Homo sapiens: one gene and its partner. The protein of the gene in region 2 interacts with the protein of the main gene of each other region in a pairwise test. Each region holds a gene or a part of one and is shown on either strand. Other genes may lie near its edges. The genes, in order: GRAP2 and ZSCAN21.

Region 1 (13,059 bases), on a different chromosome or scaffold from region 2:
ATTACAGGTGTGAGCCACCGTGCCCAGCCAGATCTGTGTGGTTTGAGTCTCTCCTGCCTCATCTCCTCCATTGACCTCTGTCCCAAGGCCTTTCCCCAGGGATCCCAGAGAAGGACAGTTCCCATACCCCTGCCGCCTGGAGCTGCACTGGGTCTGTGTGTCTCCGATGCATGAGGGCCGCATTCATTTCACTGCCCAAGCCGGTGCCACAATGCCCATCATTTATGTCAAGGCTGCCTCCTCGGCGTTCCTAGAAACATACAACAGAAGACTGGTCACCCCACTGCCAGGACATCTCCCACCGGTTCCCCCAGTGCCTTGCTCAGATGCCATCCACAGAGCCGGTATATTCCAGGAATACTTACTGATAATGACAATAAACCCTCCACGTTGAGGAGGACCTAAGGTCTAAAGGCACCTTAGATTCTGAAGGCAAAGAAGGCAAAGGCAGGTTTTATTTATTCAGTCAAGAAATATTTATCAGGCACCTACCATGTTTCCAGTAGCAGACACAAGGGAAATATAGCTGGAAAGAGAAGGTCTCTGGCTTCATGGAGCTTCCATTTAGAGGGGGAACCATGCACATTTAAGTGGTAAGTGAGCAGAGAGAAGAAATGTCTGTATCTGCCCGGGAAATCAAGGAAGGCTTCACAGAGGAGGTCATGCTTGAACTCCAGCTTAGAGGGGTAGGACTGCCCAGGGAGGGGCTCATCAGGCAGAGAGATCAGCATATAAAACGCCACAAAGGCATGAGAGGAAACGCAATGGACCATTCGGGTAACTAAGGCAGCGTGGGGGGTTGCTGGAATGTGTGTTTGCACGGGGAGTTGGCAGGGAGGCAGCAGGGACGAGGCTGGGGAAATAGATTCTGGCAGCTCACAAAGGACTTTGTGTGCCCTGCTAAGGAATTCAGGAATGATGTTATCTGGCCGTATTGTCCATCTCAGTAAGCCGCCTGAAATCCCATCGGGAACAAGGGTGGAGGGAGATAAATAAGTAATAAACAAGGCTCTGTTGTGGGTATTAAGCCTTTTTCTCTTGTGGATCTGACAGCCAGATGGGCTAAGGGGCATGAATAGATTTGGAATTGTGCTGATAGGAAAATGAAGCAATTGTTTACTGGGTCCTCAGGGGAAGTGTGTGTGTGTGTGAGTTTAAGTGTGTGTGTGTGTGTGAGACAGTGTGTGTGTGTGTGTGTGTGTTCAGGTGGGAGCCATTTAATTCATAGAGATGTCTTTGCCAAGAACAGTTTCCCTATTTCTGCCATTTGGGGGGGTCCAGGGTCTTCATCATGAACTCTCTGAGAACTCAAGAGGCTGGGCCAGGCCTGGAGGGGAGGCAGGTTCTCCTTTCCACCGTACTGTGCCCACTGCCTTCTTTCCAGATACCTGGTGGAAATGGTGGTGCTGCAGATATCGCTGCTGTGGGGGCTGCTGCAGCTGCTGGGGCGCTGGGGCATATTGCGGAGGCTGTGGCTGGTGCTGGTGCTGCTGCAGGGGAAGGGTCGGGGGGTGATCCGACAGCTTCCGGTTCATCGAAGGTCGGATTTCTTCTCCCACAGCCCCACTGAGGTGTGGGCCTCCCTGGGACCTCCGGTCCAGGCTGTTGCCCCGGTGACCCTGGGAGAAAGAACAGAGATGCTGCAGATGCATCCTCCTCTCTGATCGTCTGGCCCTACCCTACCCTCGGGCAGTTGTTCCCAGACCCTGCTCATCTGGCTCCAAGAAATAGCTGGTGGGGTGGGGGCAGCTAAAAGATAATTGATGCTTTAGACCTTCACATTTTCCAAAGTGGCCTCTGCATTCTCAGATCCTCCCAGTTTTAGGAGTGCAGGTCTCTGGTTCACAGACTAACACTTTTTGCCTGGTAGCCATTTAGTCCATTTCCAGGGCGCTCGTTTTTTCTCTGTGTAATCAAGCTGAAATATTCCATTTTACTGATACAATGCCACCCCTTCTTATCACATGTTGCCACACCACTGGACAATCTACCCTCCAGATAAGCTCCACTGTTGACTTTGCATGATTTTGAACTGTCATTTACAGCCTGGTGATAGAGACCCAAACAGCAACATTCTTGCAACACCATGGGAACCAGGCCTGCCGCCGGGCTGGACGTGGGGGAAGAAGTAAGGCCTTTTTCCCTAATGTTACAACAACCTTACAAATCAGAAATACCGTATTGTTAGTTTCATTTAACAAACAATTATGTAGGACCCTGAGGGCAGCATATACCAGGCACTGTTCTAAGCGCTTTACAAATATCAACTCATTTAATCCCATTTAATGCAATTTTATATTGCTTCTCTGAATGCCCATCCTAGTGAGTTAATACCTCTGTCCGTTTCCTGGTTAGAGTGATTCACAAGGTCTTGGCTAGCCTTTGTTTTCCTTTCTGAACTTCTGTGTGCATTTGGTGGTAACTTCTTTTCTCCTTTGGCAGTAACTTCTCAGGCTTAAAAGCAACTAGGGACTCGAAAAAGGAGGATTTTCTTGACTTCCCCAAAGCACACATTGCTTTCACAGTCTCAATATCTTTTCAAATAACCTGTCCCTAGGATTTCAGCTATTCTAGTGAATGCTTCTTCCTATGATACCTGTCTCTTATAACCATGTTATTTCCTTTGAAAAATAGTTCATAAATTGGTGTGTGTGTGTGTGTGTGAGTGTGTGCATGTGTGAATTTACTTATGGGAGGCAAGTTAACATGTTCTTAGTGTTTAATATGGACCAGACTCTGGTAGTGCTTAGCTGTATTAAGTCATTTAATCCTCACAACAGCCCAGTGAGGGAGGTTTTATTGCTCTCTCCATTCTACAGATGAGAAAACTGATACTCAGATGGTTTCTTAACTTGGCTAGGTAATACAGGTAGCTAAGCGATTAAAGCAGGATTTCATACCAGGTCTGTCTGACGCATTTCCTTTTAAAGCAATAGTCTGTATTGCAAACAGTTGCAACAGCAATAATTCCAAGTGCAGTTTTCTCCTCCCATGTCCTCCCTACCCCCAATCCCATCATAAAACTCCACATGCTGATTTAACTCCTGAACTCTAGGCTGTTCCCTAATGTCCCTGTCTGTAGCACCCCCAACTCCTTCATCCTTGGGCAACTCTTGAGCTAGGTTGAAAACTTTGGTGTAGCAATGTCTATGAATAACAAAAAAACAGCACCTGTGGTAAGAGCTGATGCTTGCTGAGCGCAGTGTGATGAGGAATGACATGAGGCGTGGGATACATTATCTTCTCCAACCTTCACAGCCATTCTGGGAGGTAGATATTACCATTGTCCCTACTTTATGGATGAGGAAACTGAGGCGCAGAGAACTTTCCAAAGTCACACGACTAGGAAGTGTTAAGTTGAGATCTGACCTCAGAGCTCTGAGCTCTGTCTTTCAGTATACTCAGAGGATCTACCCATCCTATGCATTTTTCCTGGTGGTTCATGTGAGAACTCAGGCTGCCTAAAATCTCTAGATTGGGGTCGACTGGATCTGGAGCATACCTGGTCTTCTCGGGTTCTGTCTCTAAGGAAGATCTGCTTCTGTCTGGAGATGGAATTTGTCCTGTAGTAGTCTACCAGCTTATTTAGGGATGGAAACTTCTCAGTCCACAGAAAGTAATTACCCTTGTTGTCTCGCATGACCTTGAAGTGTTGAACGTCATCCTCATGCCTGGAGATCAAGGCAAAACAAAATTGTATGTTACACGGTGATAATGTCACCACCTCCAGGCTGCTCACATCTGGGATGGTGGAGTTCTCTTTGAGCAGGAGATGTAGATATGGATGACTCACTCATCACTGGGCAGGTGGGCCAGCCCAGTCAGGCTTCGGCAGGAACTTTGTAGGATGGACCACTTAGGATACAGGCTATGCTAGACGGGATTTACATCAGCAGAAGGTAATCAGATGAGCTAAAATTTGTTTTGGACACTGGAACTAACCTTTTACAAGAAAAGCATGTTCCAAGTGACTTAACGACAAAGAGATCAAAGACCTTTTCACAATGTTTATTCGCAAGATGTCAACAGGGGTATTTCAAGCTCCTATTATCTTTCTGTTACCAGAAATTCTTTGAACCATCTCCTTTAAGCCCATAAGCTAGCACTGGCAGGTAAGAAGCTACTCTCTTTCCTAAGAAATATGTCACATTTTTTCTCTATGTAATAAGGATCTCTTGATCTTGGTTTATGTTTTGCATAAATAAGGTTACAAAGTGTTTTCAGCTTTTGGTGAAATAGCTTTGTATGAAATACAGAGTTTTTGTTTGTTTGTTTGTTTTGTTTTTTTGAGATGGAGTCTCACTCTGTCGCCCAGGCTGGAGTGCAGTGGTGTGATCTCTGCTCACTGCAACCTCCGCCTCCCAGGTTCAAGCGATTCTCCTGTCTCAGCCTCCTGAGGAGCTGGGATTACAGGCACCCACCACCAAGTCTTTAGTAAAGACGGGGTTTCGCCATGTTGGTCAGGCTGGTCTTGAAGTCCAGACCTCCGGTGATCCACCTGCCTTGGCCTCCCAAAGTGCTGGGATTACAGGTGTGAGGCACTGCGCCCTGTGAAATGATAGAGTTTTAATTGGCAAGGATGTTGGAGATTGTTTAGCCTTACTTCTCCATTTTACAGATGAGGACACTGAGGCTCACAGAGGTGCAGGGGCTTGGTCAAGGTCACTGCTGAGTAAGGGCTGAGGCCAGAACCCTGAGTCTCTGACTCCAGTCTAGTGAGCTTGGCCTGTCACGCCACCTAAACATGATAACTTCTTTTTTCTTTCAAATGAGTTGGTTTAATTTCAGGTGATACAAAGTTTAGGGTAGAACAACGACCAAAGAGCAGATTCTGGCAAGATTCTGAGCTGGTTTTACTTTAAATTCACAGTTATGGTAGGAATGACTTAGTGAAAACAACTAAAGAGATGATGAGCCACTGGAAGATTTTTTTTTTTTTTTTTTTACAAAAGTTTATTCTTAAATGTACAACAGCTCCAAGACGACACTTAATTCCAACTATAGGTGGCAAAAGATATTATAGGAGGGAATAGAGAGGTTTAAATACGGATGAAATAAAGGGTCACCGTCTCCTTAGGCACAAGGAACAGCTTATTTTTTGCCAGATTTCTTAATTCCACCTGTGGCCAGAGGCCCCTTCCCCACGACCTTCGCTTTTAGCACCTCGAGTTTCTTCTGCTCCTCTTTTTGTTTCTGCTTGAAAGCCTTCTCTTCCTCGTCCATCTCCTTGGCCTGCTTCTTGGGCTGTTTCAGTGCCTTCTTCTTGCCACCTTCGTGGCTGGACATGGCGCCTGCCGCCCCTTCCCCAGACCCTGCCACTGGACGATAACTTCTTTTAGATCAGCACCTTTTGTTGCCAGTCTGGACTCACAAGTGATGGGACACATTCGAACCAGGGCTAGAGAAAATGGATTTTATCCATCTAGGAAGGGTGGGCTGAGCCTTTACCATTAGATCCAGTTTTACTTCATTGCCAAGTCATTCTCTTTTGGATGTAAAGTTTATTTTTCAAACAGACATACATTTATATCTAAAAATAAACTGGCACTAGTGATGCCAATTGCCTGATGTAAAAGAAAGGTCAAGAATTTTAAAGGGTCTCGGAGAGTAAAGATACCTCTGAGAGTAAGTGGAGGTTTCTTTTTGAGTCAGAGTCTCGCTCTGTCGCCCAGGCTGGAGTGCAGTGGCGTGATCTCTGCTCACTGCAAGCACCACCTCCCAGGTTCATGCCATTCTCCTGCCTCAGCCTCCCAAGTAGCTGGGACTACAGGCGCCCGCCACCACGCCCGGCTAAGTTTTGTATTTTTAGTAGAGACGGGGTTTCATCGTGTTAGACAGGATGGTCTCGATCTCCTGACCTCATGATCCGCCCACCTCAGCCTCCCAAAGTGCTGGGATTACAGGCGTGAGCCACTGCGCCTGACCATGGAGGTTTCTTAGGGATGGATTTAGGGACCTGTGTTAAGAAGGAGATGGAAATTCTGACCCTCAATCTCATCTTATGTGCTGGGATTTGCTCATAGCTGGGTGAAGCCACAGGTTGTACAAGTGGCCTCTTGCTTGACTGATTTCGGGTGGTAATCAACATATTGCAATCACTTTGTGGTCTTCCCCTTGGTTTTGGCCACCAACAGATACTTTCTTCATTCTAAGACAACATGGATCAACTCAAAGTCATTATCCTTCACATCCAGGTGAGGAGGAGAAAATATTCTTGTGATATTATAATTTTTCATCCACCACCTCAAAGAACTCAGAGTGTGAAACATTGACCCTTTTACTCTCATAAGCTGTAAGGATGGGTGTGAGGGTTGCAGCTGGTTATCTGGGTCTACAAGGAGAGGATGGCCTGACCATTGTCTCAAGCCTGAAGAGGAACAAAGGAAAGGATGCGACTCAGGGCGCTGGACTCCAAAATCTGGTGTTTCAGGCCCTTAACAAATGCTGAGTGATAGAACTACAATTAGCTCTTAATTATCTGTGCCCATGACAGATGTAAAAATAATTAATAATGATTTTGCTTTGGAAAATATTATACTACATTTCTGCAAAGACGTGATAAGGATTACGGTAATTGTCACCATAACTAGAAGCTTCATCGCCTGAATATCAGGGGAAGACTTCGGTAGAAGTCAAGGCCTACTGTTTTGTAGAACTCACTTTAATTAAGGAAATATAAACCATAGTTCTGGGTCCGGGCACAGTGGGTCGCGCCTGTAATCCTAGCACTTTGGGAGGCTGAGGCGGGTGGATTACATGAGGCCAGGAGTTCAAGACCAGCCTGGCCAACATGACGAAACCCCGTCTCTACTGAAAAAAACCACACACACACAAATTAGCCAGGCGTGGTGGTGCGAACCCATGGTCCCAGCTACTCAGGAGGCCAAGGCACGAGAATTGCTTTGAACCTGGGAGGCGGAGGTTGCAGGGAGCCGAGATTGCGCCACTGCACTCCAGCCTGGGCGACAGAGCGAGAGTCTGTCTCAAAAAACCAACGAAACCACAAAAACCATAGTTTCTAGCTGAAAAAGCCAGAGTCATCTTCATGCAAACCAAAGGCCCAAGAGATACCCCTCAGTCTAACAAATTACTTGGTCAAGTTTATGATGGGGTAAAGAGGGGAGGCTTAAGAAATAGATTTGACTTGTAATATATATACACGCATGTTAAATATATGTATAATTGTTTTTTCTAATAATATATGTATATAATATATGTAAATAATTTTTTTCTCTTGAGACAGGGTCTTGCTCTGTCACCCAGGCTAGAGTGCAGTGGTGCGATCGATCTTGGCTCACTGCAACCTCAACCGCCCAGCTCCAACAATCCTTTAACTTCAGCCTCCCAAGTAGTTGGGACCACAGGCATGCGCCACTGCACTGGGTTAATTTTTTATTTTTAGTAGAGATGAGGTCTCACTAGTTGCCCCGGCTGGTCTCCAACTCCTTGGCTTAAAGCATTCCTCCCAACTCAGCCTCCCAAAGTGCTGGGATTAGAGGCATGAGCCACGGCGCCCGACCCTGACTTGTAATATATGTTAATGGAGCGAAATTTCATTAATTAAGACCTAACAAGATTAGAATTTGTGATACATCAATATTGGCCTGAACTAAAGTTAACCATTCTCCAAGCTATGAAAATAAAGTTTTTACTGAAGAAAAGAGTTTAAGCAAGATTGCAAGGGCAATGCTAAAGAGACCACTTTAAAGGTATGTATGCATACAAATTGTTGACCTGTTATTTTTAAGTCCTTCCTACCTATCCTTTCAAATATCCATTCTTTCTAAACAGCAAAGTGGCCACAGTTTATTACTTGAGATTGGATTTCTGTCCTTAAAACAAAGCTTTATGCCTTTCAAAATATATTGAATAAACCAGATCGGTATTTCCTGCCAATAACTTGACAGTAAGGTTTTGCTGTACTTCTCCTGATCTGCTAACAGCATTATATTCTTGCAGTTTCACATGTGGTGAAGTCTGATACGTGACTTGCGATCCTCAACATGCTGACCACACACAGTGTGTTCCGAACTGGGCTTCTGAGTTTGGGGCTGTGTAATGTCTACGCGTGGACTGAGTCACTTCCTATGGGTTGCTGCACCTTAGTGAGATTTCGCTGTTACAGTCCTCCCCCACTCCTGGCCCTCTGTTCTGTGGTTTTCGGTCTTGCTGTACTGTACTGTGTTGAAGTAGCCTTTCTTTTTGTTCAGCTGCCTACAACTATACATGTATTTGTTGGGGCTCAGAAAACGACACCCCTTGGCATGCTGAGTGCTTCGAACCAAAGGAGATGGGAAGGTTTCAGAAGCAGCCTTGGAAGCAAAGTCTTCCTTTGGCCTTCTCCTGCCCTCCTGTCTCCCGCTCCTCTTTCTCCCCCTGAGTGAGTCATAGAAATTAGAATTCCTCTTCCCCACAGTGGGTCAGAGAGACTAGAAGGGTCACTATGGGGGAGGCCAAGGCAGGAGGATTACTCGAGGCCAGGAGTTTGAGATCAGCCCAGGCAACACAGTAAGACCTAGTCTCTACAAAGAAATAAGTTAAAAAAATATTAGCCAGGTGTGGTGGTGTGCACCTGTATCCCCAGCTACTTGAGAGGCTGAGGTGGGAAGATGGCTTGAGCCTGGGACACAGAGGCTGTGGTGAGCAATGATTGCGTCACTGCACTCCAGCCTGGGCAACAGCTGTCTCCAAAAAAAAAAAAAAAAAAGAAGACTTGGGACAGGCCTTGTTCAGTTTCCTACCTCAGTCTGTTACCTTAGATCAAACCCCCTTTGTCCAATCCCATTTCTACAGGGCTGTCTGTCCTTTGACAAACCTAAGCATAAAAATAGACGGCTTTCCCTGGGTCTTGGGTCTTCATTTCTGAAGGCTTCTGTGTCACACAAGTCTTTGATTAAATAAATGTGTCCACTCTCCTCTTGTTAACCTGTCTTGTAGGAGTGTCAGCTGTGACTCCTCTGATGGGCAAAGAAAGGTGCCACAACTTTTCCGCCCCTGTATATCCTACAGCAGTGACTTGAGATTTCTATTTTTCTCTGACTCTTCTTCAGATATGCATCAATCATAAAAGAAAAGGTTAAGATTTAAACCCCCAGATGGATCTGGACAAGTGGGAGTTCTCCTCCTCCTATCCCTCCTTCCTTCCACAAATACTCACTGAGTGTCTCTCTTTTATGCAAGACACTGTTAAAGGCATAAAGATGAAGTAGAGGAAAATCCTGCCCTTCCAGAAGCACCTGGGCTAGAAGGGGAGGCAGATGGGCGTAGAAATAATTTCAAACACACACCAGTGTTCTAAAGAGTGGTGTGTGCATGTTTTGGGAAGGCACTGGGAGCAGCAGGTTGTGAAGCTGCTGCCATGCTTGGCCCCTAGGCCACCATGCTTCTGACCATTGGGTCATATTCCAGAGGTCCCTTCATGGCTTCAGCATTCTGTGAGGTTAACAGGCCGAGAAGGGCCAAGGCAGTGTCAGGAATGGTCAGTACCTGACAGAGATGGAGAAGTCCCCTGGGGAGCTCTGGCTGGCCCGGATGATGAAGAAGCCAACCTCCTTGCCCATGAGTAAGTTCTCTGCCTGGTGTCGAGAGAGGCCTTCGTGAAACCATCTGTGGGGGCGAGATCAAACAAAAGGATCAGGATGAGACACAGGAGTGACAAGAGGGAGACGTGGAGAAGAGGTGACCCAGAGGGAAAGAGGCTGGGGACTCTGTACAGTAGGGAGCAGAGAGAGACCAGGTGCTGTTTGAAATCAAACCAGTGCTCCAGGCAGCTTTCAGGAAAGGCGAGGGAGCATTCCCCTTGATTCACCCTCTTTGTTCCTTCTCTCCAGGAGAAGTCTCTCTCCAGCCTGGGAAACGAATCATGGAAATGTGTCGCTGCACCAAAATGGGGCAGTGTGGGAGTGACTCACTGCAGGAAGCAGCCGCCTGCCGGCAGCTGCGGAAGAGATAGACCAGAGCTGCGAGGACAGAGGATGCACTGGGGAGGGAAGGGAAGGCTTCAGGCACTGGAGCCAACCAGGTGCAGCCGGCTGAGCAGGGCCTGGGGTGCTCATGCCTGCCCTGAGGTCTCAGTGGCCTAGAGGTTCCTCCCTGGGTATTAAAGGAAAGTTACAGCCCAGGGCGTCACGTTACCTAGGCTGGCATGGAGCACAAGGGGGCTTTGCTCAGTGTGCCTAGCAGAGGCTGCAGTGTTCCTAGGGAGTCCAGTGTACATGCTTGGAAATCAGCGAGGCTGGCAGCCGCCAGAGAGCGGCGTCTATACAACCAGATCCTGGGCCTGCCCCAAAAATCCAGGCTGGGAAATAATCTTTACTGTGGAAAAGAAGAAACAGGAGAAATTACTCTTTTAGCAGAATGGTCAGGGTGGCAGCCCCTGGAGGTACAGCTGCATACAGCGTGGCATGTATGAAATAGGTCAAACACTTACACAGGGCCAGGCAAGCTGTGGCTGCAGCCTCAAAGCAGGAGGCCAGAGACCTCTCTCCACCACAGACAAGCAAAATGAGTGTCTGCAATCACTCAGCGGCCAAAGGTGGGACTGTGTCACATTGCTTCAAGGTGGCTGCTCTAATTGCTGTCACCAGAAGGCTCATACGCATGTTCCTTTAAGATAAAAGCCCGTCAGGCCTTGGCTTTGGATTCCTTTGTGAGCAATTCTCTGTGCTTTCTAGAATTTGGGAAACTGAGACATAGGTAGCAGGAAGGATGTACTTACTGGAGACTGAGTCCCCCACTGGGACTGAGGGGGAAGTTTGGCTGTGCTCTGAGAGGGCTGAAAGCAGCAGTTTCTGGTGGCCTGGAGATTCTGCCTGAGTATTTGCCACACAATTCTACAGGGCTAAACAAGAGGCCACCACACACACCACTGCCACGTGTGGGAAATGTAATGGGGATGGGAAGAGGAATGGAGTATGCACCACAGCAGCCATATCGCAAAGGAAACATTTCAGAAGTGAAGGGGATTTAGGAAATACACATTTGTCCTCTGACTGCAATCTGATAGGGGGCTTCTTTAAAGATTTGTAAAAATCACCACACATTGCATATTAGACATGAGTGGTCATGGTTTCAATAATACATATTCGTTCGTTCATTCATTCATTCATTCATTCAACAGCTTTACTGAACATCTAGTACTGTGCTGGGCCCCTCCTGGGCACTGGGGACACAGTAGTGGGCAGAACAGACACACACCCCTGCCCTCAGGGAGCTTACATTCTAGTCGAGGGGGACACACACAAAAGAACAAAATAATTAAGATCTGAAGCGTGCCAGATGATGGTAAGTGCTGTGGAGAACATGAAAACTGAGAGGAGAGATGGGGCGCTGTGGGTGGGAGATTAATGTAAGGTATGGTGATGAGAAAGACCTCACTGAAAAGGAGACATTCTAAACCTATAGGGGACTGGGGAGTGGGAGGAACCAACACAAGAGACTGAGGAGGAGAAGCCAGGGCAGTGGGAGGACAACCGGAGGAAGGACGTCCTGGAGCCAAAATGAAAGAGGTGTTCCAGTGGGAGGGGGGATCCCCAGGGCAGGTCATGCTGAGATGACCCCTGGGAGCTACAGCCCATGGGGAGCCTGGTGGGAAGGGTCGGGAGATGAGGAGTTGGAAGTAGCAAATGCACACACTCCTTTTGAAGAGATGGAGTGGCAAGTGGAAGGGGATTTGGGATTAAGAATTTTCTTGATTTATTTATTTATTTAAATTTTTTTTTTCTTTGAAACAGAGTCTCTCTCTGCTGCCCAGGCTGGAGTGCAGTGATATAATCATGGTCCACCACAGCCTTGAACTCCCAGGCTCAAGCGATCCTCCTGCCTCAGCCTCCCAAGCAGCTGGGACTATAGGCGCATGCCACCACGACCAGCTAATTTTTAAAAATTTTTTGTAGAGATGGGGCTCGCTATGTTGCCCAGGCTGGTCTCAAACTCCTAGCCACAAGTGATCCTCCTCCCTCAGCCTCTCAAAGGACTGGGATTACAGGCATCAGCCACAACAAAACCCACCTGGCCTCTGGGTTTGGTTTTGTTTGTTTGTGTTTTGGTAAGTTGGGAGAAATTGCAGCGTGTGTGTTTGCTGACAGGAATGATCCAGCAGAGAGGGAAAGGAGGTTGACGTGGAAGAGAGAGAGAGGAGAATTTCTGCTAGAAGCAGTGACAGTTCCTTCCAGCCAGCTGCAGGAAAGGCCGACTGTTTGAGCACACTTGCAGGAGGCAGGTGGATGCGGTGGGGGAGGGGGGTCTGGGAGCTTCACTTCTGGTGGCTTTCATTGTTCCAGAGAACCTGGAATCAAGGTCACGGGCTAAGAGTGATGCACGGAGGGGCTGAAGGTTTGAGGAGCACGTGGGGTATGCAGAGGTCACCTAGCAGATTCCTGGGCAGCATCAAGGGTTCCGTCAAGGTCAGTGGTCATTCTCTTGGTTTGGTGGTCAGTTCAGGTTTACCAAGACTGGTGCTCTTGCACCTTGCTGGAGTCACCAATACTACTGTGGTTTTCTAACAAGCTTTTGCTCTTTGAGCTAGACCCTGGTTCTGAGGCAAGATTAGATTTCTATCTAACCCTTGTGGTCAATTCTTGAGACAAACGAAGCCCAATCTCAATTTTTCATTTCCTCTTTAGGAAGAGAATTTCCCCTTCCCCCCGCTGACTTCTCTCATTGGGGTGAGCATGCTTTACTGAAGGCAGGGAGTGTCTGTCCACCCACTGAGTGAAGGGTGAGAGCCTGGTGAGGATGGTTAGGATTAGGAGGTCACAGAGAAGCGCTTAGGAGAGCAGCTCCCGAAGTGGGGTGGCCAATAGCGTCCCCTTTGGAATTCTGGGGAACGCCGTGATTGAAATCACTATAGATAATTTGAGTTTACAAACTCATTTTATAAAAACTTAAAATAGGCCGGGTGCAGTGGCTCACACCTGTAATCCCAGCACTTTGGGAGGCCGAGGCGGGTGGATCACCTGAGGTCAAGAGTTTGAGACCAGCCTGTCCATCATGGTGAAACCCCATCTCTACTAAAAATACAAAAGTTAGCTGGGTGTGGTGGCATGCACCTGTAATCCC
Region 2 (11,826 bases):
AGGCAGTAGAATCTCTTCAGACCAGCCTAGGCAACGTGGCAAGACCCTATCTCTACAACAAAATTAAAAAAAAAAAATTAGGGCTGAGCGCAGTGGCTCACAGTTGTAATCCTAGCACTTTGGGAGGCCGAGGTGGGCGGATCACAAGGTCAGGAGTTCGAGACCAGCCTGACCAACATGGTGAAATGCTCTCTCTCCTAAAAAAAAAAAAATTATATATATATATCAGCCAGGTGTGGTGGCACGTGCCTGTAATCCCAGCTACTCAGGAGACTGAGGGAGGAGAATCGCTTAAATGCAGGTGGCAGTGGTTGCGGTGAACCAAGATTGCTCCATTGTACTCCAGCCTGGGCAACAGAGTGAGACTCCATCTCAAAAAAAAAATTAGCTGGGTGTGGTGGTGCACACTTGTGGTCCCAGCTACTCGGGAGGCTGAGGTGAGAGGACTGCTTGAGCCTAGGAAGTTGAGCCTGCAGTGAGCCCCTGTGATTGCACCACCACACGATAACAGAGCAAGACAGTCTCAAAAATGAAATGAAATTACTTTATAGATTGCCATTTTTTTTTTTTGAGATGGAGTCTTGCTCTTGCCCAGGCTGGAGTGCAGTGGACCAATCTCGGCTCACTGCAACCTCAGCCTCACTAGTATCTGAGATTACAGGCGCCCACCACCACGCCCAGCTAACTTTTGTATTTTTAATAGACAACGGGATTTCACCATGTTGGCCAGGCTGGTCTTGAACTCCTGACCTCATGATCTGCCTGCCTCGGCCTCCGAAAGTGCTGGGATTACAAGCATGTGCCACTACGCCCAGCCTATGCAAATAAATTTTAAATCTGTGTTCTCATGGCTGTAATCCCAGCACTTTGGGAGGCCAAGGCGGGCGGATCACGAGGTGAGAGTTTGAGACTAGCCTGGCCAACACGGTAAAACTCTGTCTCTACTAAAAATAGAAAAATTAGGCTTGGTGGCACATGCCTGTAATCCCAGCTACTCGGGAGGCTGAGGCAGGAGAATCACTTGAACCCAGGAGGCAGAGGTTGCAGTGAGCTGAGATAATGCTGCTGCACTCCAGCCTGGGTGACAGAGCGAGACTGTCTCGAAGAAGAAGAAAAAAACCTGCCCATGTCCTGATGGCTCTCCCAAGCCTCAGTCGTGGGTCTCCAGTGGACTGCAGAGCAGTTACACCTGGACTTTCTACAGTTTCATAGTATGTTTCAAACCAGATCCCACTTTCCCATTTATTGCCCCCTCTTAAAATTTCTGTAAACCTGTCAGGATCAAAATTTTGTAAGTTTTCTTTGATTATACTCCTCATCCTCCTCCATCTAACCAGCATCAAGCCTGGGCAGGTTCAGTAAAGATGGAGTGGAATGATACTGTTTTCAGAGTTGAGATTGTAGAGGAGATGGGATTTGCAAGTGATGGTAGCAGTAGCTGATACATGGCATATACTCTGTGTCAGCGTTGCCTGGCTCTTTTCCGAGTGGTTTTCATGTATTAATCAGCTGGGTGCAGTGGCTCACGCCTGTAATCTCAGCACTCTGGGAGGGTAAGGCAGGAGAATCGCTTGAACTCAGGAGTTCAAGCCCAGCCTGGGCAACATAGTGAGACCCAGTCTCTACAAAAATAAAAATTAGCTGGGCGTGGTGGCACACATCTGTAGTCCCAGCTACTCAGGAAGCTGAGATGGGAGGACTGCTTGAGCCCAGGAGTTGGAAACTAGCCTAGGCAATATAATGAGACCCCTGTCTCTCTGAAAAGAAAAAAATCCAATACTTGGCGAGGAATGATGGCCTACAGTAAATGAGGTAGAGCTGCTAAAATGATGAGCAGAGAAAGGGTGTCAGCAGACTCAGCGTGTGTTAAAATGAATTTCTTACACGAGATCTGAGAACCAAACACCTATGTTATCTCGGAAGGCCCAAATAGCTTCCCGTTCACTCAGACAATAAAGGATGAAGTGAGGGGAGCACCGGGATTGTTCAGTGACAGCTGCCTCAGCAGGGTTAATAGTAGGAGATTCTGCCACAGAACAGAGTTCCCTGTTATTAATGGGATGACTGGTCAACAGAGGCCAGGCGGCAGCACTGAGCTATCACAGGCAAAGTGGACACAATTACCATGATGGGCAACCAGGCCAGAGTGGCAACTAGGGTGATTTTTTTTTGAGATGGAATCTTGACACTCTGTCACCCAGGCTAGAGTGCAATGGCATAATCTCGGCTCACTGCAACCTCTGCCTCCTAGGTTGAAGCAATTCTCCTGCCTTAGCCTCCTGAGTAGCTGGGACTACAGGCGCACGCCACCACACCTGGCTAATTTTTGCATTTTTAGTAGAGACAGGGTCTCACCATGTTGGCCAGGCTGGTCTCAAACTCCTGATTTCAGGTGATCCACCTGCCTCAACCTCCCAAAGTGTTGGGATTACAGGCGTGAGCCACCACACCCGGCCTATTTATTTATTGTTTGAGATGGAGTCTCACTGTGTTGCCCAGGCTGGAGTGCAGTGGCGTGATCTCGGCTCACTGCAACCTCCACCTCCCAGGTTCATGCCATTCTCCTGCCTCAGCCTCCGGAGTAGCTGGGACTACAGGTGCCCGCCACCACGCCCAGCTAATTTTTTTTTTTTTGTATTTTTAGTAAAGATGGGGTTTCACCTTGTTAGCCAGGATGGTCTCAATCTCCTGACCTCGTGATCCGCCCACCTCGGCCTCCCAAGTGCTGGGATTAGAGGCGTGAGCCACCACGCTCGGCCTTATTTTTGTTTAAATTAAATATGAATTTAAAAAACAAGAGAGATGGGATCTCACTATGTTGCCCAGGCTGGTCTCGAACTCCTGGGCTCAAACGATCCTTCTGCATCAGCCTCCCAAAGTGCTGGGATTATAGGCATGAGCCACTGTGCACAGCCCACTAGGGTGTCTTGACCCACAGAGAACTGTGGCATTGACTAATAACCCTTGGTGTTCTTAACAAAAACTTTCAGCCAACAGGATAAGGCTTTGATTTGTATAAACAAAAAATCCCAAGAGTTGATGAGAAGGCTGATACCGGCTGTTACAATGGGAAATTGCAATCCTGCTGCTGCTTTCCAGATCTGAGCCAGTTCTGAGATCTGGAATCCATCAAGTTAAGGGGAGTCTGGGTTTCTTTGAAGACCTTCCAACTGTACCACGAGTATTATGCAATAAATATTTCCCCAAAGGACCTGTGGCTGTTCACTAGAGTAACGTACTAAGAAAACAGAATGCCCAGGCCTTTTGAGGCTTTTTGATACAGGATCTAGTATGACACGGATCTAAAACTTACCATTGCCCTCCAGACACAGGTCAGCTGATAAATGGAGTCCTGGCCCAAATCCATCTCAGTGGGCCCAGTGGGAACAGACTCACCCTATGGCCATGTCCCTGAGAAGATAATTGGGATATGTTTAGCAGGGGGACAGATGCCCAGCACATTGTTTACTTAACCTGTAGCTTAGGTCATAGGCAGAAGGGTCAAGTGGAAACTCCTGCACACCCTGCCCTTCCCCAGCCAATCAAAGTGGCAAGAAACAATACCACACCCTGAATGGAACTGAAGTGATTATTGCTGCCCTCAAAGACGCAAAAGACACTCTTTCTGTATGGCTTCTGTAAAAAACCGACGAGTTGTGGCTGATAATGGTTGTTTGCCACAAACTCATCCACAACAGCTGTGCCGGCACAGTTCAACATGGCCCCTGGCTCTTGGTATGCAGTTATTATCTAGTGAAAGCATTCGCTTTATTTTTTTTTTTTTTGAGACAGAGTCTCGTTCTGTCACCCAGGCTGGAGTGCAGTGGCGCAATGTTGGCTCACTGCAACCTCTGCCTCCCGGGTTCAAGCGATTCTCCCACCTCAGCCTCCCGAGTGGCTTGGACTACAGGCACCCGCCACTATGCTCAGCTAATTGTATCTTTAGTAGAGACAGTGTTTCGCCATTTTGGCCAGACTGGTCTCGAACTCCTGACCTGAGGTGATCGACCGCCTCAGGCTTCCAAGGTGCTGGGATTACAGGCGTAAGCCACCGTGCCTGACCCCCAAATCCAAATTTTCTAAAAGCTAAACCAGTAGGAATAGTTTTCTCCATCTGTAAGTATTCAATAACCAACACATCATTTGTTATAATAATAGTCCTGAGGCATTACAAGATGTTATAAGTTTATTCTGAATCTCATTCAATTGTGTTCAATGTGGCTCAATTCTTTACAAATTAAAATTCTTGAATATATGTTAAAAATTAAACAATCTTAATGTTTCTTCCTTAACTAGACTGGATACACGTCTGTTTAACTACGCAAAAGGTAATGCTGGCATGGCTTACTGGGACCCTAAGTGTGGCGAAGGGACTCTGCTCCAGTGAACTGGCGAGTGTGGAACCTCCTGACACCTTCTGAGGACCTCCTGCCTGCCATGTTGCTGTGGAGCTCGCACTCCTCAGGCATCCCCTGATGTTGAGTGATACAAACTCTATCACCGGAATCGATGCTGCTGCAATGACAAGACTTCTTTCTGGTTTTCAGATTCTAAAGTTTAAAACAACGACAACAACAGGAGCGCTTGAAAGTTACGGTGCTTCTCCCTCTCCAGTGTGGACTCGCTGATGTTTGGAAAGATTGGACTTGCTACAGAAGGTCTTTCCACAGTGATGACACCAGTAGGGCTTTTCCCCGGTGTGGATTCTGTGGTGTTTATTGAAGTTGGAGCTGTGGTTGAAGGCTTTCCCACACTCCTTACACTTATATGGCTTCTCTCCGGTGTGGAGTCTCTGGTGGGAGCTGAGGCCCGCATGCTGACTGAAGCTCTTCCCACATTCGTTACACTGATAAGGCTTCTCCCCAGTGTGGATCCGATAGTGACGAATGAGGCTGCCTTTCCCGCTGAAAGCCTTGCCACAATCTTTGCACTGATATGGCGCCTCTTCTGTGTGCATTCTCTGATGTTTAAGAAGGTCTGAGCTCTGCCCAAAAGCTTTTCCACACTTACAGTCATAGGGCCGGTCCACCAAGTGTGTTCTGTAGTGGAGGGTGAGGTTTGAGCTGTGGCTGAAAGCTTTCCCACACTTGGTGCACACGTAAGGTTTCTCCCCAGTGTGTGTTCTCCTGTGTTTGGTGAGATTTGAGCTATTACTAAAGGCTTTGCCACATTCAGCACATATATAACGTCTCTCTCCTGGGGTAGGTTTAGTAGGAACTGATTCTCTACCTTTCTTGGAGCCTGCCTCTTGAAGAGGGGGTTTTGTTCCTTTTTCATTTTCAAGGTTTACGCACTGCCTCTCTAAGCTGGCCTCAGGTTTATTGGCGATAATCACAGAAATTATATCCCCTTTGAGCCCCTCTGCTTCAGAACCTTTCTGCTCATCTGCTGATTCCTCGTGCTGGGTACTCAATCTGCAATCTGAAACAATAAGCAGATTAAGGATACTTCAGTTGTTTCTTGTTCTGAGGAAGAAACTGTTACCAGAGAGATAGAACCATCAGGTGAGACTGATGGTTTCTGAAGGGTGACTAAACAGAGCTCATGATAGCGCATAGATACAAGTAAATCAGCATCCAATCTAGTTTACAATACTGCACTTCTTTTTTTTTTTGAGATGGAGTCTCGCTGTCAGCAGGCTGGAATGCAGGTGACCTCAGCTCACTGCAACCTCCAACTCCCTGATTCAAGCGATTCTCCTGCCTCAGCCTCCAGAGTAGCTGGAATTACAGGCACGTGCCACCACACCCAGCTATTTTTTGTATTTTTTTTTAGTAGAGATGGGGTTTCAACATGCTGGCCAGGATGGTCTTGATCTCCTGACCTCAGGTGATCCGCCTGCCTCAGCCTCCCAGAGTGCTGGGATTATAGGCATGAGCCACCAGGCCTGGCCTCCATACCACACTTTCACACAATTCCCCACCCGAAGCTATTAAGATGTGAAGAGAACGTGGCTTTTTCTGCCAGAAAAACAGCTTCACATACAGAAGGCAAAATGCAGCATATGAGAGTGGTAGCCGGGCACAGCGGCTCACGCCTGTAATCCCAGCACTTTGGGAGCTGAGGCGGGAGGATGGCTTGAGTCTGGGAGTTCAAGACCAGCTTGGGCAACATAGGGAGACCCCATTTCTACAAAAAGTTAAAATAAAAAAATTAGGTGGGCATGGTGTGCCCCTGTGGTCCCAGCTACTTGGGAGACTGAATAAGAGGATCACTTAAGCCTGGAAGGTCAAGGCTGCAATGGGTCAAGACTGCAGTGAGCCATGATTGTGCTGGCCTGGGCAACAGAGTGAGACCCTATCTTTAAAAAAATATTTATTTTATTTATTTATTTTGAGACGGAGTCTCATTCTGTTGCCCAGGCTGGAGTGCAGTGGTATCATCTTGGCTCACCGCAGTCTCCGCTCCTGGGTTCAAGTGATTCTCCTGACTCAGCCTCCCGAAGAGCTGGGACTAGAAGCACCTGGCACCACGCCCAGCTAATTTTTGTATTTTTAATAGAGATGGGGTTTCACCATGTTGGCTAGGCTGGTCTCAAACTCCTGACATCAGGTGATCCACGTGCTGGGATTACAGGCGTGAGCCACCGTGCCCAGATGTTTTTTTTTTTTTTGAGATGGAGTTTTGCTCCTGTTGTCCAGGCTGGAGTGCAATGGTTCAATCTCAGCTCACCGCAACCTCTGCCTCCCAGGTTCAAGCGATTCTCCTGCCTCAGCCTCCCGAGTAGCTGAGATTACAGGCATGTGCCACCATGCCCGGCTTATTTTGTATTTTTAGTAGAGACAGGGTTTCTCCATGTTCTAGACCATAGGCTGGTCTAGAACTCCTGACCTCAGGTGATCTGCCCGCCTCAGCCTCCCGAAGTGCTGGGATTACAGGCATGAACCACCACACCCGGCCCTTTAAAAAAAAAAAAAAAAAAAAAAAGAACAGTTGAGCCTCACGCAGATTAAAAACAAGGGAGAATGACTGCTGCAGGGCCAGGGTTAAGGAAAATGACAAGGACAATTAAGGATGAGGCTGAGTGGCAAACTCACAAAAACCCATGTTCCCACAGCAGTTGAACATAAAAGCAATCAGAGGGCATTCTGACCATTTACAATCATTCCCGCCCCAGATCCGTATCAATCAGAATGAAAGCACGTGATCTCCAAGAGGGCTTCACGCTCATCATTTACTTACACTGGCTACATCTTGTAATTCAGTTATAAAGTGACGCTCACTATTAAAATCAGATGGAACCAGTTTATCTTTTTAGAACGCCTCACCAGGCAGTCACACCTCTTCAAAGTCCACCTGGCCATCCACATCAGGGAAAAGGGGAGTAAGAGAAATTCGCTCTGAAAAATGGGACCCCTTGGAGAACTGTTAGTCCTCTGAGGGTACAGAAGCCTGTCAGCAAGCTACCTTCTTCACCCGTTTCCCCTTCCCTAGGAACCGCCCTGACAGCTTCTCTCTCTCTGCCCAGCTGTCTATCTCCTTCCTTTGCTGACAGTGACTATCAGCTGCTTCCAGGCTCACCCTCTCCTCACCATCTGCTGGGGGTCAGAGCTTCAGCAGCTGAAGTCCTTCACACTCTCCATAATTAGCAATCGCTTGCCTACACACAGACTTCTCTTCGAGTCACTGGACAGCCATGGACTACATGTGTGGGACAGAAGTAACCTCATAAACTTTGTTTTGTTTTGAGATAGAGTCTGGCTCTGTTGCCCAGGTGGGAGTACAGTGGCATAATCTTAGCTCACTGCAACCTCCACCTCCCAGGCTCAAATGATCCTCCTGCCTCAGCCTCCCGAATAGCTGGGACCCCAGGCACTAGCCACCACACCTGGCTAATTTTCGTATTTTTTGTACAAATGGGGTTTTACCATGTTGCTCAGGCTAGCCTCAAACTCCTGGCCTCAAATGATCCACCTGCCTTGGCCTCCCAAAGTGCTGGGATTACAGGTGTGAGCCACCATGCCCAGCCAAAAGTTAACATTTTAAAAAATAGCTGAATGAGGCAAAAATTGAAAAAGAATTTACCAGGACTATTTATTTCATTGTCTTCCAGGCTGCACTGTTACTGTTGGGTAGTTTGTCATCAGTCTAATCAGCATTCCTTTGAGGGGGGTAATCCGTCTTTTATGTCTTGGTTACTTTTGAGACCCGGTCTCACTCTGTCGCCCAGGCTGGAGTGCAGTGGTGCAATCTCAGGTCACTGCTGCACCACAACCTCCACCTCCTGGGTTCAGGTGATTCTCCTGCCTCAGCCTCCCAAGTAGCTGGGAGCTGGGACTACAGGCGTGTACCAATACACTCGACTAATTTTTGTATTTTTAGTAGAAATGTTTTTTTTTTTTTTTTTTTTGACGGAGTCCTACTCTGTTGCGCCAGGCTGGAGTGCAGTGGCGCGATCTTGACTTACTGCAACCTCTGCCTCCCAAGTTCAAGCGATTCCCCTGCCTCAGCCTCCCGAGTAGCTGGGACTACAGGTCCCAGGGACAACACGTGCCACCATGCCCGGTTGAGATGGAGTTTCACTATGTTGGCCAGGCTGGTCTCAAACTCCTGACCTCAGGTGATCCGCCTGCCTCAGCCTCCCGAAGTGTTGGGATTACAGGCGTGAGCCACCATGCCCAGCCAGTCTGGTTTTTTTTTTATTTTTTGAGATGGAATCTCACTCTGTTGCCAGGCTGGAGTGCAATGGCGCGATCTTGGCTCACTGCAATCTCCGCCTCCTGGCTTCAAGCGATTCTCCTGCCTCAGCCTCCTGAGTAGCTGGGACTACAGGTGCATGCCACCACGCCCAACTAATTTTTGTATTTTTAGTAGAGATGGGGTTTCACCATGTTGACCAGGATGGTCTCCATCTCCTGACCTCATGATCCGCCCTCCTCGGCCTCCCAAAGTGCTGGGATGACCGGTGTGAGCCATCATGTCTGCCCTCTCCAACTCTTTCCGCCTCCTCTGGAACAGCTATTAAACATACACTGGACCTTCTCATCTGATCCCACACTGATGTCCAATGCCTGCCACCTTGATCTTTCTAAGTAGCATTTCAGATGACTTCCTTCCATCTACCTCTGTTTGCTAATCATGTCCTTCATTATTTAAAACAGCCATTGCATTCTTCATTTCAATGACTACAGTTTTCACTTTTAGAAATTCTATTTTGTTTCTGTCAAAGGTGCCTGTTTGTGTTTTTATTAACAGTTTCTTGGCTGGGCGTGGTGGCTCACGCCTGTAATCCCAGCACTTTGGGAGGCCGAGGAGGGCGGATCATGAGGTCAGGAGTTCGAGACCAGTCTGGCCAACATGGTGAAACCCTGTCTCTACCAAAAATACAAAAATTAGCCGAGCATGGTAGCAGAAGCCTATAATCCCAGCTACTCGGGAGGCTGAGGCAGGAGAATCACTTGAAACTGGAATGCGGAGGTTGCGGTGAGCCGATATAGCGCCACTGCACTCCAGCCTGGGCAACAAGACCGAAACTCTGTTTTTTTAAAAAGAGCTGGGCGTGGTGGTGTGCACCTGTAGTTCCAGCTACTCGGGAGGCTGAGGCAGGAGAATCTCTTGAACCTGGGAGGCAGAGGTTGCACTGAGCCGAGATTGCATAAATGCACTCCAGCCTAGCAACAGAGGGAGACTCCGTCTCAAAAAAAAAAAAAAAAAAAAGACTTTATGCAAAGCTTTCACAGCCAACTTCCCTTTCCTTAGGAGGGCCCAGCAGCTTTGTCTTCTGTCCCATCTGGGTACTAAAACCCAAGCCTGTTCCTGGCTCTGATAATCCTTCCACTCCACCCTCCTCTTTGTGTAATACTGCCAAGGGGCTACACCAAGAGATATGGAAAATAAAACTGACCAGATAGGTCTCCGGCTATTTTTATCTCTAATTACTGTGGCAACTCTGGGGAAACCCCAATTGCCTGGAGAGGTCTACTGTGTTCACCATAAACCATGAAGAATTTAGCTAACAGTTTAATTTTTTACTTTTCCTAGAAAATGTGATTTTTAACCGGCTCGAAACTCTGTTTCCATGATGGAGTTTCACGTTTCAGACACAGCAAGCATGGAGGGAGATTTCTGAGGGCCATGGACTCTTGTCATGAAATCACACCACACACATAAATAGTGGTCTACACCACCAACACGTAAGCAAAGTCCTGGTTTGAAACTATTAGGATTTGGAATAATATGCCATATTTTTGCAAACATATAATTAAACATTAACTCTGTTTCAAAGATTTAGTTCTAATCCTTCTGGTAAATGAAGGTACTTAAGAGTAGAACCCATAAAATAACAAAATAACATAGGGCCAGCTTGGGCAACATAGTGAGACCCTGTCTGTACAAAAAAATAAAGTTAGCCAGACATGGTGGTCCCAGCTACTTGGGAGGCTGAGGTGGGAGGATCATTTGAGCCCCAGAGATTGAGGCTGCAGTGAGCTATGATCACGCCACTGCCCTCCAGCCTGGATGACGGATGGAATCCCTGTCTCAGAAAAACACACAAAAACACCCCCACAGGGGATGACCATTTATGGCCTGAGATTATTCTATAAACCATAATATATGGAGATTTGAGCTCAGGAGTAGTCACCTAATACAGCTTTGACTTGTGAAAAATGCCCCACCTCTTTCCATAGCTTCAGAAAGGAGGTTGCCAATTATTTCCCATTTGCCCTTCTCAGATCCATTCTCTGACCCGCCCTGTGCCCCAGGAAGCTGACCCTAAGGGCTGCACTGTCTTGTCTTTCCTGCCCTCTGGCTGCCAACTGAGTTTGTCATTGGGGAACAAAAGCAGGAGATTTAAGGGCAGGAGGAGGGTGCAGTTGGGGTATTTATTCCGTTTTCTCCTCATCCCACAGCAGGGCCTACAGCCACAACTTCTATCAAGTGACCCCCTCCTCCATGACTATAGCTCTTACCTGATTCTGGTAAGAGGGTCCCCCTCTGTCCCTTTAGGCTCACAGGGAGTAACAGCTTTTCACTGTTGTCTGGTGCAACACTATTCCTTATTGGTTCATTTGAAGTCTCTACACCTCTGTTAACAGTTTCTTTTTTAAACTCATTTCAATTGACCCTTTAAAAAAAATTATTTGTAATACTCAGACTTCAAAGAGAAACTGATCCTTTAAGAGTGATCCATTCCCATGCTAGGGCCCAGGTTAAGACAGCCTTACTTGGGGGAGGAAAGGGGACTATTTCCACCCAGTCAGCCCAACTAATCAAGTCAATCTATGAAATCACCTCACAACCAAGAATTACTAATTATTCTGCTTCTCCAACCACAGGGGCCTGGGGCACTGAATAGGAGTCTAATGGGTGGTCCTCACCTCGGACCTTTCTTGGATCTTGAGCGAACTCCTGCTCCTCACCAGACTCTTGGATGTACAGGGGCCCCCAAGACTCGTATTTGTGACTGGTCTCCAAGGGCTGTGGCTGCATGCTGCTCGGGGATTCCTTTGCAGTTCCTGAGGAGGATATCTTCTCCCACACCGGTTTCTGTTCGTTTGGAGGAGTTGAGACCTAGAGACAATCAGGAATGGCTAGGTTTGTGCATGGCTCACTTTAAGACCAAGAATGAAAATCCCAGTAGAGCTACATAGAACCTCTAGGAAAGAGAAAAGGAAAACACCCATCCCATTCCATTCCCAAGGCTAAAAGTTAGTTTAGGATGATAGAGAAAAATAGGAGGAAACAAGGTCTAATTCAGCAGAAATTTCCATTCAGCAAATCTTAATGTATGGACAAACCCTTGTTCCTGCCTAGAATGTTACGCTCCCAATCTCCTAGAATAACAAAGGTCTCTCCTGCCTACCTGGTGTCCTGGCTCATCCAGTT

What was found.
Region 1: the proteins of ZSCAN21 (region 2) and GRAP2 interact in binary tests that used the Homo sapiens proteins (3 or more experiments, as listed by UniProt).

Annotation. Positions count from the first base shown.
Region 1 is NC_000022.11:39,956,602-39,969,660, reverse strand, and holds part of GRAP2 (GRB2-related adapter protein 2), read right to left. Parts: intron 9,607-13,059; coding exon 9,487-9,606; intron 9,265-9,486; exon of another isoform or gene 8,742-9,264; intron 5,742-8,741; exon of another isoform or gene 5,287-5,741; coding exon of another isoform or gene 5,092-5,286; exon of another isoform or gene 4,756-5,091; intron 3,672-4,755; coding exon 3,503-3,671; intron 1,620-3,502; coding exon 1,389-1,619; intron 251-1,388; coding exon 128-250; intron 1-127. Other genes in the region: TMA7B (translation machinery-associated protein 7B), read right to left, coding at 5,092-5,286. UniProt on the Homo sapiens protein: Interacts with SLP-76 to regulate NF-AT activation. Binds to tyrosine-phosphorylated shc.
Region 2 is NC_000007.14:100,057,383-100,069,208, reverse strand, and holds the end of ZSCAN21 (zinc finger and SCAN domain-containing protein 21), read right to left. Parts: coding exon 11,804-11,826; intron 11,512-11,803; coding exon 11,319-11,511; intron 5,422-11,318; coding exon 4,592-5,421; coding exon of another isoform or gene 4,558-4,591; 3' UTR 4,422-4,557; coding exon of another isoform or gene 4,297-4,421; 3' UTR 4,169-4,296; downstream 1-4,168. UniProt on the Homo sapiens protein: Strong transcriptional activator. Plays an important role in spermatogenesis; essential for the progression of meiotic prophase I in spermatocytes.